2 linked regions of the Homo sapiens genome follow. The protein of the gene in region 2 interacts with the protein of the main gene of each other region in a pairwise test. Each region holds a gene or a part of one and is shown on either strand. Other genes may lie near its edges.

Region 1 (3,500 bases), on a different chromosome or scaffold from region 2:
AAAAAATTAACAGGAAATAATAGAGGCTAAAGTTCTCTGTCATCTGTCAGCCAGTGAGCTACTGAGTGTGTGTATGTGTGTGTGTATTCCCTTCCGTCTTTTTAAAAATTTTTATTTTTAGGGACAGGATCTTTTTTTTTTTTTTTTTTTTTTGAGACAGAGTCTCGCTGTGTCACCCAGGCTGGAGTGTGGTGGCGCCATCTTGGCTCACTGCAACCTCTGCCTCCTGGGTTCAAGTGATTCTCCTGCCTCAGCCTCCTGAGTAGCTGGGTTTGCAAGCACCCACCACCATGCCCAGCTAATTTTTGTATTTTTAGTAGAGATGGGGTTTCACTATGTTGGCCAGGCTGGTCTCGAACTCCTGACCTCAGATGATAGCCCACCTCAGCCTCCCAAAGTGCTGGGATTACAGGCGTGAGCCATCACGCCCGGCCCCATAGTGTATAGACTACTACAGACTATTTAATATTTCTGCATTTTCACCTAACATCATAATTTTATCATTTTCTTAAATTGCATCCCAGTCTTCATAATTATCAAAGAATGTAAAACTCAGTTTTTAAAAACGTTCAGTTGCTTTGCTATTTAAACAAAATCCCATATATCTTCAGACCAAACTGTCTTAGTTTGCTACGTATAAGAATTATTAATTCGTGGCCAGGCGCGGTGGCTCACGCCTGTAATTCCAGCACTTTGGGAGGCTGAGGCAGGTGGATCACGAGGTCAGGAGATCGAGACCATCCTGGCTAACACAGTGAAACCCGGTCTCTACTAAAAATACAAAAAATTAGCTGGGCATGGTGGCGGGCACCTGTAGTCTCAGCTACTCGGGAGGCTGAGGCAGGAGAATGGCATGAACCCAGGAGGCGGAGCTTGCAGTGGGCTGAGATCACGCCACTGCACTCCAGCCTGGGCAACAGAGCGAGACTCCATCTCAAAAAAAAAAAAAAAAGAATTATTAATTCGTTTTGACCTAAACTTGGAATTGAATTTTTTTTCTGAAACAAAAACTTGTTTCCTCTTGTCTTAGGTATGCAGAGAAGGAGAAGAAAAATCTTAGATACGTCAGTGGCATATGTGCGGGGAGAAGAGAACTTAGCAGGCTGGCGGCCCCGTGGAGACAGCCTCATCCTTGAGCACCAGTGGGAGCTGGAGAAGCTGGAGCTCCTACATGAGGTATCCAGGGGCAGGGTTGTTCAGATGCAAGAACTCTCGGACAAGATTGCCAAAGTATCAGTCTTCCTCCCCGCTGCTGCATGTGATCATAGCTTTTCACTTTTCTCTCCTGAGGTCTTAACGAGCTTTGTGTTTGCTATAGCAGTAGTATTGATCTTCTCAGGTGGAAAAAACCCGCCACTTTTTGCTGCTGCGTGAGAGACTTGGTGACAGCATCCCCAAATCCCTGAGCGACTCGTTATCCCCCAGCCTCAGCAGTGGGACCCTCAGCACCTCCACCAGTATCTCCTCTCAGATCTCAACCACTACCTTTGAAAGCGCCATCACACCTAGCGAGAGCAGTGGCTATGATTCAGGAGACATCGAAAGCCTGGTGGACCGAGAGAAAGAGCTGGCTACCAAGGTGTGAATCCCTTCCTCTTTGCTGAACGTCTTCCCACAAGGCTCCACAAACTAGCCTCTCGGTTTATTCATTTTCAACACCTTTGTTCGAGGTGTTTGAAGGCCTGTGATAATACTGTGAATGTAGAAATAAAAAGACGCAGTTCCTACCCTCAACAAGCTTACAGGGCCAGGCACAGTGCCTGATGCCTATTATCCCACCACTTTGGGAGGCTGAAGCAAAGGGATTGCTTGAGCCCAGGAGTTAAAGACAAGCCCAGGCTAACATAGTGAGACCTTGTCTCTACAAAAACAAAAATTAGGCCAGGCATGGTGGCTCACACCTGTAATCCCAGCACTTTGCAGGGCTGAGGCAGGTGGATTACCTGAGGTCTGGAGTTCGAGACCAGCCTGGCCAACATGGTGAAACCCTGTCTCTACTAAAAATACAAAAATTAGCCAGGCGTGGTGGCGAGCGCCTGTAATCCCAGCTACTCAGGAGGCTGAGGCAGGAGAATTGCTTGAACCCAGGAGGCGGAGATTGCAGTGAGCCGAGATAGCTCCACTGTGCTCCAGCCTGAGCGACAGAGTGACACTCCATCTCAAAAAATAAAATAAAATAATAAAAAATTAAAAAATTAAAAAATATAAAGGTTGCAGAATATTAGGTCACAAGCATATAATAGAGATGTGTGTTTCAAATGCTATGGGAGTCAGAGGAGAAGTGTCTATGGTGGGGAGCTCATGAGCTGACCTTGAAAGGATGCGCAGGAGGGAGGCAGCAGTGTCGACACCTGCGTGATCAGGAGGGAGGCAGTGGTGTCCTGCGTGATCAGGAGGGAGGCAGCGGTGTCTTGCGTGATCAGGAGGGAGGCAGCGGTGTCCTGCGTGATCAGGAGGGAGGCAGTGGTGTCCTGCATGATCAGTCTTGGGGAATTCACGTGGGACTGGAACAGGAGGTGTGGAGTGAAGAATCTTGTATACTGCACTGAAGAGTTTAGAGTGGATGATGGGAGCAAGGCAGAAATATGTTAAACAGGTATTTGTGTTTTAGAAAGATTTCTGGCGAGGGGCGGTGGCTCACGCCTGTAATCCCACCACTTTGAGAGGCCGAGGCAGGTGGATCACAAGGTCAGGAGATTGAGACCATCCTGGCCAACATGGTGAAACCCCGTGTCTACTAAAAATACAAAAATTAGCCGAACGTGGTGGCGTGCGCCTGTAGTCCCAGCTACTAAGGAGGCTGAGGCAGGAGAATCGCTTGAACCCAGGTGGCGGAGGCTGCAGTGAGCCGAGATCGCGCCACTGCACTCCAGCCTGGGCAACAGAGTGAGACACCATCTCAAAAAATATATATATTTCTCTGGCAGCAATAAAGAGAATGGATTGATGGTGAAGAGATACACTGAGGAAGGGAGAATTCTTTATCTTTATTACAGTAATCTGATGAGAAATGATAAAAGCTTTTTAAAATTTTATTTTTTTTGAGATGGAGTCTCACTCCTGTCACACAGGCTGGGATGCAGTGGCATGATCTTGGCTCACTGCAACCTCCACTTCCCAGGTTCAAGCGATTCTCCTTCCTCAGCCTCCCAAGTAGCTTGGAGTACAGGCATGTGCCACCACACCTGGCTAATTTTTGTATTTTTAGTAGAGACAGAGTTTCACCATGTTGGCCAGGCTGGTCTTGAACTCCTGACCTCAGGTGATCCACCCGCCTCAGCCTCCCAAAGTGCTAGGATTACAGGTGTGTGGACGCCCAGCCAGATAAAAGTTTTTTAAAGAAGGCAGAGGTGGCTGGGTGCGGTGGCACACGCCTGTAATCCCAGCACTTTGGGAGGCTGAGGTGGGCGGATTGTGAGGTCAAGAGATCACTATGATGTTTTTATTTTTTATTTTTATCTTTATTAAATTTTTTTTTTTTTTGAGATGGAGTCTTGCTC
Region 2 (2,213 bases):
ACGGGGAAGCCGCACCCGTAGCAGGGGGACGGGGACCCCATCTGTGCCCAGCCCCTGGGGGCGGGCAGGGCTGTGAGGGTCCGAGGGCGAGGCTGGGCCAGGGTGGGGCCAGGGCAGGGAGGGGCAGGGCTGGGGTAGGGCAGGGCTGAGGGGGAGCTGGGGGTCAGCGCCCTCACCGGAAGTTGTGCCGACACTTCGGGCAGTGGAACTCAGCCAGGCCCCACATCTTGTCAGCTGGCACTGGCTCGTAGCGCTTCCGGCATTTCCGGCACCGGGATACCTGGTGGTGGTGGGCAGGAAGGTACAGAGAGGGGACCAAGGATTGTCAGAGGTGTCTGAGGTTGGGGTCAGGGCTAGCAGTGTGCTGCAGCGGCTGGCCTCAGCTTGAGCAACCCAACTCAATCAGTGACTTCACGTGGGTAGCCTGATATTGACCATGGTGGGAATATTTACACCACAGAAATTGGCAAACACTACACATCTTGGCTTCCTGCCTCTTTTGCAAGAACTAGTTAAGCATTGACCAGAAGTGAACTACTAGTCAGGAGGTTCAGAAGCCAGATTTGGGGCTGTGTTTTTGAGGTCAGATTTGGTTTCTTTTCTTTCTTTCTTTTTTTTTTTAGAGACAGAGTCTTGCTCTGTCACCCAGGCTGGAATGCAGTGTTGTGATCATGGCTTACTGCAGCCTCGACCTCCCAGGCTCAAACGATCCTCCCACCTCAGCCTCCTGAGTAGTTGGGACCACAGGCACACACCACCACTCCCAGCTAATTAAAAAAATTTTTTTTTGCCAGGCACAGTGGCTCATGCCTGTAATCCCAGCACTTTGGGAGGCTGAGGTGGTAGATTGCTTGAGCCCAGGAGTTTGAGACCAGCTTGGGCAACATGGCAAAACCCCATCTCCACACACACACACAAAATACAAAAATTAGCCAAGTGTGGTGGCGCAGGCCTGTAGTCCCAGCTGCTTGGGAGGTTGAGGTGGGAGGATCACCTGAGGCCAGGAGGTGGAGGCTGCAGTGAGCTATGATCCCGCCACTGCACTCCAGCCTGGGTGACAGGGCGAGACCCCCTGTCTTCAAAACACATTTTTTTTTGGAGACAGGGTCTCACCCTGTCACCCAGGCTGGTCTCAAACTCCTAAATTCAAGCGATCCTCCCTACTTAGCCTCCCAAAACACTGAGATTGCAGCCATGAGCCACTGCGCCTGGCCAGGTTTGATTTCTGTAGTAGCTGTTCAATTGTGGGTCAAGGGTCAGGTTCTGGGGTAAGGAGGTATTGGGCTTCTCACATTTAAGGTCAGAAGTCCAGTCCTGGGTCAGGGGTTGGGATCAGAGATCAAGGCTGAGCTCTGAGTTTGGAGGTCAGGGATTGGACTCTCAGTGATTGAAATCCTTAGGTCAGAGGTACAGTCACTGAGGATAGGAGTCAGGAGTGGAGTTCGGGACAGTCAAAGTCGAGGTTAAGTTTTAGGTCATCACCTCCTTCCGCTGGGGCACGCGGCGCCACCAGACGTGGTCGCAGGAGGAGCAGGCAAACTGCCGGTCCACAGCAGGGATAAGGTCGTCCTGGGCACGTTGAAACATGCGTAGGTTGGCTTCTGTCAGTGGCAGGAGGGAGGTCGCCACTGCCTGTGGAATGGGGCAGGTGGGGATGAGGTGGGGGGGTGTCACCCCTTCTGCACCAACATAAGCATCAGCCCTCCTCTCCCTACAGACGAGTCCTCTTCCTGCCCCAGTGAATATCTCCCCTCCTGCCCTAATGGACATCCTTCTGTGCCTGCAGATGTCCCCCTCCCAACTCCCCCATCCCAAGCCCTAGCCACCAACTCACCTGAATGTCCCGGTCCTGCTTCATATCTTCTGGTGGATCCTGGGTGGAGATAGCAGGGGCAGAAACTGGGGATGGGGCTCAGGCCTCTTTCCACCCGTTTGCTGGGGGAGGCCCCCGGCCGCAATGAGTAGGGTGCCCCTAACTCGCCAGAAGCTCACAGAGCACCACTCACTTATTGAGAGCCAGGTGTGTGGCCTCAGTTGTCCTCATAGCAGCCCTGAGAGGTGGGCACACCTGTTACCTTATTGCTCAGATGGGGAAACTGAGGCTTAGGGGAGGGCTTGCCTGAGTGAGGCTAGCCTGACCCCCATACTCACTTCCTGCCTGCAAATGCCACATGCTTGTTGATGTTGTGACATATCGCCCCTTTGAGGCCACG

Evidence for each region. The genes of interacting proteins can lie anywhere in the genome.
Region 1: the proteins of SHFL (region 2) and KIF1B interact in binary tests that used the Homo sapiens proteins (3 or more experiments, as listed by UniProt).

What each region holds. Positions count from the first base shown.
Region 1 is NC_000001.11:10,364,070-10,367,569, forward strand, and holds part of KIF1B (kinesin-like protein KIF1B), read left to right. Parts: intron 1-1,030; coding exon 1,031-1,176; intron 1,177-1,339; coding exon 1,340-1,579; intron 1,580-3,500. UniProt on the Homo sapiens protein: Has a plus-end-directed microtubule motor activity and functions as a motor for transport of vesicles and organelles along microtubules.
Region 2 is NC_000019.10:10,089,317-10,091,529, reverse strand, and holds part of SHFL (shiftless antiviral inhibitor of ribosomal frameshifting protein), read right to left. Parts: coding exon of another isoform or gene 2,152-2,213; intron 2,052-2,151; coding exon of another isoform or gene 2,041-2,051; exon of another isoform or gene 1,880-2,040; intron 1,874-1,879; coding exon 1,835-1,873; intron 1,633-1,834; coding exon 1,483-1,632; intron 281-1,482; coding exon 177-280; exon of another isoform or gene 55-176; coding exon 1-54.